3 separate regions of the Homo sapiens genome follow, and all the other regions are reported to be linked to region 1. Evidence: microRNA targets listed by miRTarBase, many of them from high-throughput screens and not tested one by one. Region 1 holds a microRNA gene; each other region holds the end of a gene's coding sequence.

Region 1 (4,151 bases):
TGGAAGGCCATGCATTGCCTTCATTTATTGTATTTCAAATCACTGTACATTTACTTTTGTGAAAACACTGCCTGCATTTTCTAGTACAAAAAAAACCTAAAAATTGTTTCAGGAATGTAGAGAAATATCCAACTTAAATAGCGAAAAAGTGCACCATAATTACTGCTGCACTGCAGTCATTTCTGCAATTCCCATGTTTCTTAAATAACTATCTTGTCAGATAACACACAATATAAAGAGCAATTATGAAAAACAGACATTTACATATACTTCTAAAGTCTTATTGGGAATATCCTGTTGGCATTGGATAACCAATCATAGGTGCAGCTGCAGTAGCAGGATATGCATATGCCTGTTGGTTCATACCATTGTGCATATTTGGAACATTACTTCCGTATTGCTGAGTGCTATCATAACCATTCTGGTAAGTCCCTGTTGGATTACCAGTCCTAAAACTGGTCTGTATACCAGCAGACACAAAATTACTTCCAAAGCTCCCATTGGTGTAATTTGCAGCACTGTAAACACCATTCTGAGTTTTTGCCCCAAAATCTCTTTTAAGCAGGCTAGAGTAACCTCTGTCATAATTTTCCCTGTCTCTAAAGGTATTAAATCCACCCCTTTTGCCCGCAGAGTATCTGTCCCGACGGTCATCCTTCATGCCTCCTCTACCCCTGGAACGACCTGTCAAGAAAACAATTGCAAATTGATCAATTATGTCTATGACACAAATCATTGTGGACAGAAAGAAACAGATCTATTCATGGTAGGCGTGAAATGTTTTTACAATTTTTCAGCTTAAGTTTTCACATTCAAGGTTTTACTCACCCTCCAATACCATTTAAATGGATTTGTAGACAACGATGTGACTCGTAACTACCAACATTTCCTATCAGTCATCCTTACCTGAACCTCTGTCTTCGACCAACTGAAGCAACTTGGGATTAATTGCTTGATTAGCTTCACGAAGCACAGAGATAAGGTCGCTCACTTGCTTTATGTTATTAGGTGTAAAGAAAGTGTATGCTGTGCCTGTTTTGGTACTGCGAGCAGTTCTTCCAATTCGATGAATATAATCCTCTGAGGAGTTAGGGTAGTCATAATTGATGACAAATTTCACATCTTCCACATCTGTAAGGTGTTGCAGTGTGGCAAAATAGCAATGTACGGAGTTTTGCACACCACAACAGCCAGACCAAAAATAAAAAGTTAGACAATTGTATTCCCAAGAAGGTACGGGCTGCAAAAAATACAGTTAAAATGGTTATCCATTTCCTGTAGGAATACCATTGAGGTTGAAAAAAGAAAAAAAAGCACATGTCATCTGTATAATTCATCACCCACCCAGTGACAGACCCTGTCAAAAGGAATGTGTGTTCCCTAAGCACATTCCCAAATCAGCAAGTTCCCTTACAGATCATCAAGTGACATCTGAATGCTTCTGCGCAGTAGGGCCACTTAAAGTTTCACAGCAACCTCTTCATGTGCTCATTTTGAGGACCTTGAAACAAAAAAATGTACAAGGTCCTTTGCATTACACATTCATCAGAAGTTCAAAATTCTGGCCACACTGCTTGTCTTGCCAAGACCTTACAACCGCAGCTGCAAGAAAACATACCTGTCCCCCAAAAGTTGTTTTTATGCACTGTGTCTCGTCTAGGCAAGCGCTTCCAAGAAGCCAGGATTCACTTGAGAATGTGTCTCTCTCTGGCAGGTCTCGACATGACGACTACTGTGTAGGTGAGGGAGGAACTTTCAAAGCACTTTCTTTTCCCACTTACTATGTGTGAGAAGTTGCTCCTGCTCTAGATCTCATGTGCCAGTACTCACCAATTTGTAAAAGGCTTAGTACCTTTTAAAGCTGCTCTCTCCATTTCAAACTTGAACAAAAATTTCATTGAACATTGAAGTTTGGAACTACTTCTTCGACATTTCAGCAAACTCACTGAAACTCAAAGACCCACAGATCACAGTGAACAGTTTGAAACAAGGCTGTACCATGGCAGTCATGCAAAGCATGGGACAGAAGAAATACCACGGCAGTGAACTGTGAGGATAACTTCCATTTTTTCCCTCGGAGAGAACAGTTTACGGGGCAGAGGTGATATGTTCTGCCTTTTGAAGATTACTGGCACACGTTCAGCTTTTTCACCTCTCTAATCGACTGGAAGCAGCCAGCCGATCACTAGTCCTCCATCCCCCTCGAGTCCTCCGATTGTCATGCCTAGGCCTTGCCACAAAGACAGCACCTTTATGTGAAAAAAAACTTAGAAAAAATGCAGGTTAAAGAAAGCAATAAACTTTCTTTAAAAAAGTTAAATGGAGATCTTCTGGGAAACCAAGCCATGAATGCGAGTTTGTACTAACCTAGCCCTCTGGAGGCCACATCTGTAGCAATCAGAATAGGAGCTTTTCCATGTTTGAATTCTACAAAGGAAGGCATATACATGATCAATTATCTGAGCAGAATTCTAGCTAGGTTAAGTAAGGGGGAAAAATACTTCATTTGAAATATTTACCATTTAGAACCCAGTCACGCTCTTGTTGACTCTTGTCACCATGGATACCCATGGCAGGCCACCTAAGTTAAAAGACAAGTTGTGTTATTAAACTCACATTGAAAACCTCAGACTCCAGTGCTTGACCACTTTTGGTCACAGATCTCTTTAATTTCGCCAGAAATGAAAAAGTTAAATTCACTATCAGATATGAAAAAAATCCACTGCTCGTGATCCAAGTTTGCCCTTTCCTAAGCTGTTTTAATCAATCTGCTTCAATGGAGGAGCTCACACATACCCATCTCTCCTCATTTTTCTGGTAAGCTCATCACATCTTCTTTTGGTTTCCACAAAAACAATGGTTTTATTCTCCTTCTCACTCATGATCTCTTCCATTAGACGAATAAGTCTAATAATAGGAGAGAGAAAGGAAAAATCCTGAGTTTTAAAAGACCATTGCTAGGGCCACACATTTATGGTCAGCAAAACATTAAGTTCAATTTACATGGCTGGAAGTCAAAGAGGAAACGCCTGCTAATCCACTTATCGAGCAGTTCGACCCTTGGTCCTTAAGTCAACCAGGGGACACATGAATTCCTTCTATAGGAAAGCTATAAATGGTGACAGCCATTATTTGAAGGATTCAAGAAATTTTCAGGATTAGTAGGCTAACTAAATGAAATCACACCAACTGAAATAACCTAAAACAACTCACCAAACAATGATCCCTCAATTTTACAGCAAAGTTGTTAGGAAGCAAATATAACAGAGTTAATAAAACTTACTTTTCATCCTTTTCTACGTCATGACACACATCCACAATCTGAAGAATGTTGTGGTTTGCACTCAGTTCAAGTGCACCAATGTTTATATGAATATAGTCTTTCAGGAAATCTTCAGCAAGCTGTCTTACTTCTTTTGGCCAAGTCGCACTCCACATTAGAGTTTGCCTATCAGGCTAATGGATTTTGGGGGGAAAAATTAGTATCAGACTCTTAAGAGTGAAAACACAATTCAGTTTGATCACATATTTCAAAGGACACTTACTCTTATTTGATCCACAATCTTCCTTATTTGGGGTTCAAAGCCCATATCAAGCATTCTATCTGCTTCATCAAGGACAAGGTAGGTTGTTCTTCTCAGATTGGTTTTTCCACACTCTAAAAAGTCAATCAGTCTTCCAGGTGTTGCAATACAGATTTCCACACCTTTAATTAAATACGTAAGTGTAACTACAATACCTAGGATATTTAGCACCAATGACAAATAAAACCCTTTTCATTACATACCTCTCTCCAAATCACGTATTTGTGGTCCCTTAGGAGCACCACCGTAGATACAAGTAGACTTCAAGCGACATGCTCTACAATATTCAGCAGCTACTTGCTGCACCTGTTGGGCCAGTTCCCGAGTTGGTGCCAGCACCAAACACTAAGGAAAGAGAAACAGCTTTCAGCACAAACCTGGATACTAGTTTTAAACTGCTAACTTATTATACTAGCAGATCCTTTCTTCATGTGTTGTCCAATACCCAAAACAGCTCCAGCTGAATAGGGTGAGCTAACCTCTATATAAAACCACCACAAATGATTACATCTTTAGCTATGTAGTCTAAAATCTACACATTATGCTTCTAATAAAAAGTTAAAAATA
Region 2 (4,000 bases), not on the chromosome of region 1:
TCCAGTATCAGCAGAGTTGAAAGCAGCGTCTGATTGAGACATACGTTGAAGCTATAGTGTAAACTCTCAAAAGCAAGACATGTAAGGAAGCTTTGCTAAATCATTTTTCTCTGTCTTTCCTCTTTGGGTCCAGGTTGAAGTAAAGCCATATGTGCTGGATGATCAGATGTGTGATGAGTGCCAGGGCACACGCTGTGGTGGGAAGTTTGCCCCGTTCTTCTGTGCCAACGTCACCTGTCTGCAGTATTACTGTGAATACTGCTGGGCGAGCATACATTCCCGAGCCGGGCGGGAGTTCCACAAACCGCTGGTGAAGGAGGGAGGCGACCGCCCTCGTCACGTCCCGTTCCGCTGGAGCTGAGCCACGGGCCGACCCAGCCACAAGTACTGGAGTAGATAACAAGGAGGGAAAAGAGAGGGCACTGCCTCAGGGCTTACAGTGTTCTGGAAATCTGTGCATTCGTTCTCGATTTTTAAAGAAGAATTGGGTCTTTTTATTATTATTATTATTATTTACAGTCATATTACTGAACTCAGTGTCCAGTATAATGCAGAATTGCAGAGTGTAGAATGGTACTGATTTGCACTTTGATTCACACCTTTGTCTGCTTGGTACCTTAATTTTTTATACCTGATTTGTCACTCGTGACAGTATGTAGACTGCCATTCTCATCAGCGGCCGTCAGGCTACTGTCTGTGATTCTTTTGTTTGTTGTTGTGGTGTTGTTCTGATTGTTTTGAACTGGAGCATGCACTTATTTTCAGAAACTTAGAGAGTTGCCCCTAGGACAAGACTTACCAAAGGTAATACTCGTGAGTAGGTGGCAGATGTAGCAAAAACTTCACAACAATTCAGCAATCATTAGCTCGGGTCACTTAGAGTAAGGATAACCCTTCATGAAAATAAGCCTTTAGTTGCTCTCTATTTTGACTTGTAAGGATACCTCATAAGCTGGATCTTTTATTTTTCCTTCATGTTTGATTTTTGTTTTGCCGAGGATTTTGGTTAGATCTTTTAGTATTATGTAAATTTATGCTGCAATAGCTTTTGCTGCTATTAAAATGGTATTATTAATACCATAATACTCTATTCAGGCTAGGATATCAATTAAACACAAAAACCCAACAACACACTTTTGTGATTTTAGGGATAGAGTCAGCTGCCGAACGGAGATCAGAATAGACTTCAGAAAGCTTCGGTGGAAGGTCACTATTTCTGACTGCATGTTTACTTAATCAGGTTGCTGCATGCAATAAATTTTATATCCAATGTCTAGTATAAAACGTTCCCACAATGCACAAATTAAGAATCTATATAAGCTATAAAAATACTCATTTTTTAAAAAAAGTTTTTTTCATTCAAAGAATTGGTAATTGACCGGAGGAAGGCATGCCTCAATAAATGGAATGCTCTGAATGGGAAGAGCCCATAACAGAATGACCTATATTACAACCGATATAAAACCTAGGTGTAGGATATTCTTCAAGCAAATTTGTGGATGGTAGATGAAGTACTTTGCGGTGCTCTGTTATATATTGTGAAATTTATTTTATATAGTAAAGTGATTATGTCTAACTGTGATCAAACTTAACTGTTTAAAGCCTCTGTCAGACATTAATGAACTTGACAGTTCATAACTGATATATTATAAACTAACACATGAGCTCTTAGTTACAATCTCTTAGTGCTTGCACCATTTTACATAGCTTCAGACCTTGTCCAGAAAACCAAAGAGCTCATCTTAGCTTACAAACACTAAGAATATATACAGGATATAGAGATAAGTTGTCAGATTGACAAACTAGGCACATTTTTAAGAAAGTTGTGTAATGGTGATGCTAAAGAAATGTCTGTACAAAATAAGATGGCCTGGGCAGAGTTGGTTGTCTGAGTGAGAAACTAACTACTTAATTCCCTGGATTTATCCTGTTAAGCTTGAGTAGAATGAAGGCCTGCTAGCACTAGCGTGGTCTAGAATGAAGGCCTGCTAGCACTAGCGTGGACATTTTTCTAGCATTCACCCTTGGGCTGCAGATAGTAATATATAAACACACACAATGATTGCAAGACTATGTAAATCTTTTTTTAATCTTCTTCCTATGTTTTGGAATTCTGGGGACAATCTGACTGGATATGACACTGCAGAATAGATTTAAGTCGCTGTGTTTTCTGTGCTGTGATGTCCTTGTACTGTCTTAAGTTAGTGTTGCTTGTTTTTGTTTTGTTCTCCCATGTTTAGTTGCAATTACTGGCTCTCAAGCTATAGTTTGTTTTCAAAAAGGAAAAACAAAATAGTTTTTTACTGGATTAAAAATGCTTATTTTAGAATCCTCCCCTTTTTGAGGCTTTTTGGTAATAATTGCTTTTTTCCAGCCCAGGTGTGGTTTTGTTTGTTTTTTTCTATGTTTGTGGGTTTTTTTTCATCTGTACAAGAAATTTTGTTATGCACTACTACTTTTTGTATTCTAGACAGTTTTCAAAAGTTGGCAGATTTTTTTTTTTGTTTTTAAGGAAAAAGGCATGCTTTCTGACTGACATGATCTTTTGCAATACCTCAATTTTGAAATATAGGAAAGAAAATGATATTTTCTAAGTAAGTTTATTCAGAAAAATATATATTAATTTAATTCTGCAAGAAAATGATTTAACAGATGGGTAACTTTATTTTTTTCATGCTTATTTGTGTTTTTTGAAAATGAAGAAGTTAGAGCTTTATAACTATAATATTAAAGATCATATCTAACCTACAGAAATCTACCTAATTATGTGAAAGAAGCAAAACTTTTTGAAGAAGCACCCCTCTTTCATGTATTAAAATAACACTGAGATTTTTTTAAAAGCTGGAAGATTGTACAGCATAAAGCTAAAGTGAAGGCAAAAAACATTGTCCTGAAGAATAGGTTACAAAAAATAAACTCCATTTGGTGCTGAAAGTTGTGAATAGATGGTGGAAACTACTTTCCCTTAATTTGTATATTTCTAATCAAGTGTTGATTGTGCGCGACTGACCAGGATTGTGAAAGAGTTCTTCTGTTTGTATTTTTTTAAAGAGAACTTTTTTAGTTTATTAAATTATAACATGTTCCCTTTTGTTTTGTAAATAAATGTGCCCCCAAGTTGTTAATGTTATATTAAAAGAGAGGGTCCTTCAAAAAAATTATTTTTTAAAACACAGAGGTGTTCTGACCTGCAACTTGACTGGGAAGCCCCTGGGTAACACAGGTCCTGCTGTGGCCTTTCCTTGGTGTGACACTTGAACTAGTCGATTTTTTGAAGGCTATAACCTAACCTCGACTATTTGTTGTTATGTGCAATACTGTTTGTACTGTTTGTATAAAAAATAGAAAAAAAAAAGAAAAGAAAAAAGGCATAAATCTTTATTGCAGATTTATTTTCATTGCAAACTTTAGACATTGTGATTCACTGAAATCATTTTTCTACTGTCAAATATGTACCTTTTCTTCATGCTGGTATTTTTTCAATAGTAATGTAGCCTTTGTACTGAGACAAATTTTCATTGTTATTTTTAGAAAGATTTTTTGCTAAGAAAAAAATTAAACATATTTACATATTTTTCATTTTATTTCGTATTTTCTTTAAGGAGTGCTTTCTCAATCATTAATAGAGTTGTTTCTGGGAGGGACTTTCATATCTGGTCAATGTCATAATATTATTTTGTATTTTTATTGGAATAAATTAATTTTATGATGCTAATTCTTTAAAAGTTTATTTTTTTCATTTTCAGTTATTTTTGAAGCTAAAACCTTTGTAATATTGTTACTAAAGTGTCTAGTTTTTTGAAATGCAAAGCTTTATGTATTAACTTGCTGATGTGGTTTACAATAGTGTGACAACGATGAAAATGCTTGGTTATGTAAAGTGATTGGAAATGTAATGGATAATTGGGTAATAAAATGACAGAATGAGCAGAACATGTGAGATTTTGAGAAGCCTTTTCCTTTATCACAGTGGTTTAGTGTAAGACTAGGGATGTCACAG
Region 3 (4,000 bases), not on the chromosome of region 1:
CTGTGGTGGGGAGAAGGGAAAGGCAGGAGAAATGAAGTACATGCAACAAAAGCCCCCACTGCCTGAGTCTCCTACCTGATCCCACAGCCACCACTGCCACTCTCTGATACTCTTGTCCCTTCTTCTGCAACCTCTGCCTTTCTAGAATCGAGGCATCTACATGTTCCGAATAAACAATGAACATGTGATTGATGCTACGTTGACCGGCGGCCCTGCCAGGTGAGAGATGACGAGGAAGGAGGGATTTAGTGGTCCCTGAGAGTGGCACTCTGGGGGATAGACGAACAAGGAATCAAAATTGTCCCAAGTTAGTTGCCTGACATCCCTGACTCTGTCCCACTGCCCAGGTACATTAACCATTCCTGTGCCCCTAACTGTGTGGCCGAAGTCGTGACATTTGACAAAGAGGACAAAATCATCATCATCTCCAGCCGGCGAATCCCCAAAGGAGAGGAGGTGAGAGGAAGTATCCTGACTGAGTGACAAAGCAGCTCCTCCTCCTTTCACCCCTTCTCTGCCATTCCCTAAATGTGGATTCCTAGGCTGGGCACCTCAGATCATATCTTCTCTGGCCTCCCCTCTTCCTGTGGGGGACTAGCATTGATTCTGCCCTCTTCTCTTTTCAGCTAACCTATGACTATCAGTTTGATTTTGAGGACGATCAGCACAAGATCCCCTGCCACTGTGGAGCCTGGAATTGTCGGAAATGGATGAACTAAGAAGCTTTGAGGCTACCAGGCAGGGGAGTCCCCCTACCCACAACCTCTTCCCTGAAAGGGATGAGGGGGAAGAGAGGTAGCAGCCAGAGCCAGGACCCAGGGTTGGGGCTGCCGGCTGACCCGGAGCCCCTGGAGCAGGAGGCTGGGGCAGAGGGCCCTAGGCCAAGCCCACCCTGGGCACCAGGGACAATCCTCTTCCCCACCACCGGCCCTCAGGCTGGCATCTCTGCCCCCAGCTCCAGGAGGGGCCAGACAGAAGCAGCCATTGGGCATCTCAGGTTTGAGGGGGATATGGGCCGGGAACTACCCAGAAGCATCTGGGAGGCAGCAGGGTGGGGGAAGAGGATGTGTGGCCGGGCCTCACAGCCCTGCTGCTCCCACTGACCTCTCCGGCCCAACTCACGGCTGCAAAGAGACTTGACTAAGCTTGACAATCCCAAAGGCCGGGTCCCACACCTGGCCCTGCCTGCCGGGTCCTGCCCCCACCCTCACCCCCATCCCCCTCCCTCTTGATCTGTCTCTGTTTCCCTCTTTTCCTCTGTGTTTCTGTCTCTCTATGGGTTGTGTTTCCTTGTTTTCCACTCTGACAAATGCAACATGAACGGGAAAGAGGCGCCCAGCTGCCTAGGAGGGCAAGCTGGGCAAGCCGGGCAAGGAGACCCCGCACCCACACCTACCTCATTTAAGTGTTGGATTTTTTGCTGTTTTGAAATGTGAGACCCTCTCCAAGCCCCCTACTGCCCCAACCCTCTCCCCCACCTCACTGCCCTCTTCTGAGTGGGTGGAAGGGGGGTAGGAGGAGGAAGAAAAACAACAACAAAAAATCCATCTTTGTTTTTAATTATGGGCATGGGATGGTGGTTGAGGCAAATGATGATGAAGATTGGGGATGACTGGCCCCTAGTTGCTCTAGGACTTCCTTCTCCATCTGGACATGGGGGCAGGAGGGAGCTAAACCTAGGACCAGGATATCTCCCTCCTGTTTTCCCAACCTCATCATGAGCCTGTTTGCCCTCCAGCCCCTGGACGGGTTGGGTGGGGGGTAGGGTGAGGGCTATCCCTGAGTGGCATGCCCATACCTAGTGAGGCAGGGTGTGGCCCGGAGCTCCCACTTTCCCTCAGTCACCAAACTGCTGCTGGTCTGGTGGGAAGGGGTGGTGATGTGGGGGTGGGGGAGCTTAGTGTCAGCGCGGGGAGGGTGGGGGGTATTTATCTATTTATACATGGGATTGTACATAGTCTTGTGGGGCATGGGGGAGCCGGCTGGAGGTGAGAACCCTCCCCTCTCCCCCCACCCCCCGGGGAGAGCAAATGTAAAACTACTAATTTTTGTGCTTTATATATTCTATATAAATATATCTATTTTCTTTTTACAAAACCAGTTTATAAATGGTAGGGGGGTGTGGGGCGGACACATGGAGCTCCCCTTGTGGGGGGGCCCCCTCCATTACCCGACCTACCGCCCTTTTCCTCACCCCCCACCCCACTCCCCACCCCCTGGCTGTGACTGCTGTAAGATGGGGGTATAGAGGCTGGGCAATTCCCACCCCCTGTTGTATAGTTGGACTATGTTATAACGCACAAAAGAGAGCTGACCCCAGGGGGAGCCAGAGGGTGATGGGTTCCTTGCCTCCCTTTCCTTCCCCTTTCTGCCCAAGCTTGTGCTGCAGTTGAACCTCTTCCTGGGGGTGGGAGTAGGTAAGGGGTGGGTGAGGCCCCAAACCCCTCTCTGGTAGGGAACCGTGGGGATGAAGATGAAGCTTATATGCAGTTCTCTTCTAGGGGCTGTGGGCAAAGGGCATTTTGTAATTAATATTTTCAAGAATCAGATGTCTGGAGTGTAGGGGTGGGCTTGGTGGTGGTGGACGGGCGGGCCTGCTGGAGGGGGAGCTTGGTCGCTGTTGTGATTTTAGGTTTGTTTTTGTTTTGTTTTGAATTTGGGGGGTTGTGGATTGTTGGGGGTAGGGAGATTTTTTTTTTTTAAAGCTGCTTCCTCAACTGTTTCAAGCTGCAAATGTTTAAGAGAATAACAGCCCCCACTCCCACAGGAACCGCTGTAATTAAATCAGACAGTAGGAAGACTGGGCTGCTGCCCTCAAAGCCACAGCCCTTGGATGTTCCTTTTCCGAGAGCAGAAGGTCTAGGCTACAGGGAGGGGGAGATTGGCTCCCGTGAGTCAGGCTGTGTTTGGGGCTTGGGCCCTGGGATTGGGAAAAGGGGATGGGGCAGACTTTGTAAGCATATGCTAGGTATCCGATAGTCCTGTAGAATTTAGTGAAGAAACCTTATACAGTTTTTAATTTTTATATAAACTATAACTCAGACCCAAGCTACAAGGTTGGAATTTTGGTTGGTTTTTTTTTTAAGTACCCTGCCTGTATAATTGCATCAGAATCCCCCACCCCACCCCCCGCCCCCGTGTTTGTATTTTGGGTTGGTTTACACTCGCACATACTCAGTTTTCAGTTTTCCCCTTTACAGTCTTCTCCCCTCACCTCCAGGACCCTCCCCCTTTTTAAAAAATAAATCGCTGACAAGTGTGAATCCCGTGAAGACTTTATTTTGTGTTGTGTGTATCCTGTACAGCAAGGTTGGTCCTTCGTAACAACGGATGAAATGGTTCCCTTTTTTAAAGCGCCCTCTCTCCCTCCACCCTCAGCGCCCCTGTCCTTGGCATGTTTTGTATCAGCGATCATTCTGAACTGTACATATTTATGTTGCGAGAGGCAAAGGGCAAGTTTTGGATTTTGCTTCTTCCAAGTTTGTTTTTAAACGACAAATAAAAAAAGAACATTTTAAATACAAGCGGCTCCGTCCCATGACCCTCGCCGTCAGCCGGATCCGTGCGGTCCGCGAGGACCCGGGGGAGGGCGGTTACCGAGGCCCGCCACCGCCGGAAGGGTGGGTTCCTTGCCTTCCGCCCCAGTCTGGCGACTGCCATGACGTGGGCGGAAGTGGCGTCGCCGCACCGGATGTGGGGCGGGGCCTGCCCCAAGAGAGTTTCCTAAAGCGAGGAAACCAAGCCGGGCGCCTCTTGCAATGGAGACGGTGAGGAGTGCAGGAGGGCGGTCGGGGGCGCTGTGGAGCCTAAGACACCCCCCCAACCCTTAGGAGACCGGGAGGGCCGGGCAGGGGCTGGCGCTGGTGTCTAGCAAACAAAAAGCAGCCGGGTGTCTGCCCTATCCCGTGACCCTGTTCCTCCGCTTCTTCGTTGGGCGCATCTCCTGGAACTGGGCCGCGTCCCCGCCGCCTTTCCGTACGCGGTACCCTTAGCCCAAGCA

What was found. The annotated mature microRNA hsa-miR-5047 reads UUGCAGCUGCGGUUGUAAGGU and lies in region 1 at 1,588-1,608, opposite strand. An mRNA with a match to its seed (bases 2 to 7 or 8) in the 3' UTR can be bound and repressed. Matches are read on the target gene's strand: a 7mer-m8 pairs with bases 2 to 8, a 7mer-A1 pairs with bases 2 to 7 and ends in A, and an 8mer does both.
Region 2: miRTarBase lists CPEB3 as a target of hsa-miR-5047. Seed matches in the 3' UTR shown: 7mer-A1 at 1,036-1,042.
Region 3: miRTarBase lists KMT2D as a target of hsa-miR-5047. Seed matches in the 3' UTR shown: 7mer-A1 at 1,124-1,130 and 8mer at 2,726-2,733.

The regions. Positions count from the first base shown.
Region 1 is chr17:64,499,643-64,503,793 of GRCh38, forward strand. It overlaps MIR5047 (microRNA 5047), which reads right to left and starts at 1,671; the gene lies at 1,572-1,671. DDX5 (DEAD-box helicase 5) reads right to left here. Exons shown (of 13, transcript NM_004396.5): 6 at 3,788-3,929; 7 at 3,546-3,706; 8 at 3,284-3,456; 9 at 2,797-2,907; 10 at 2,520-2,581; 11 at 2,368-2,427; 12 at 907-1,131; 13 at 1-684. The coding sequence ends at 281. It overlaps MIR3064 (microRNA 3064), which reads right to left and starts at 1,197; the gene lies at 1,132-1,197.
Region 2 is chr10:92,048,573-92,052,572 of GRCh38, reverse strand. CPEB3 (cytoplasmic polyadenylation element binding protein 3) reads left to right here. Exons shown (of 10, transcript NM_014912.5): 10 at 134-4,000. The coding sequence ends at 361. Among named protein-coding and RNA genes, the nearest start is that of BTAF1, 130 kb to the right of the region's middle.
Region 3 is chr12:49,018,499-49,022,498 of GRCh38, reverse strand. It overlaps KMT2D (lysine methyltransferase 2D), which reads left to right. Exons shown (of 55, transcript NM_003482.4): 53 at 146-219; 54 at 348-456; 55 at 627-3,521. The coding sequence ends at 719. It overlaps PRKAG1 (protein kinase AMP-activated non-catalytic subunit gamma 1), which reads left to right and starts at 3,723. Exons shown (of 12, transcript NM_002733.5): 1 at 3,723-3,767. The coding sequence starts at 3,759. It overlaps DDN-AS1 (DDN and PRKAG1 antisense RNA 1), which reads right to left. Exons shown (of 2, transcript NR_147179.1): 2 at 3,259-4,000. RefSeq lists an enhancer at 3,320-3,519.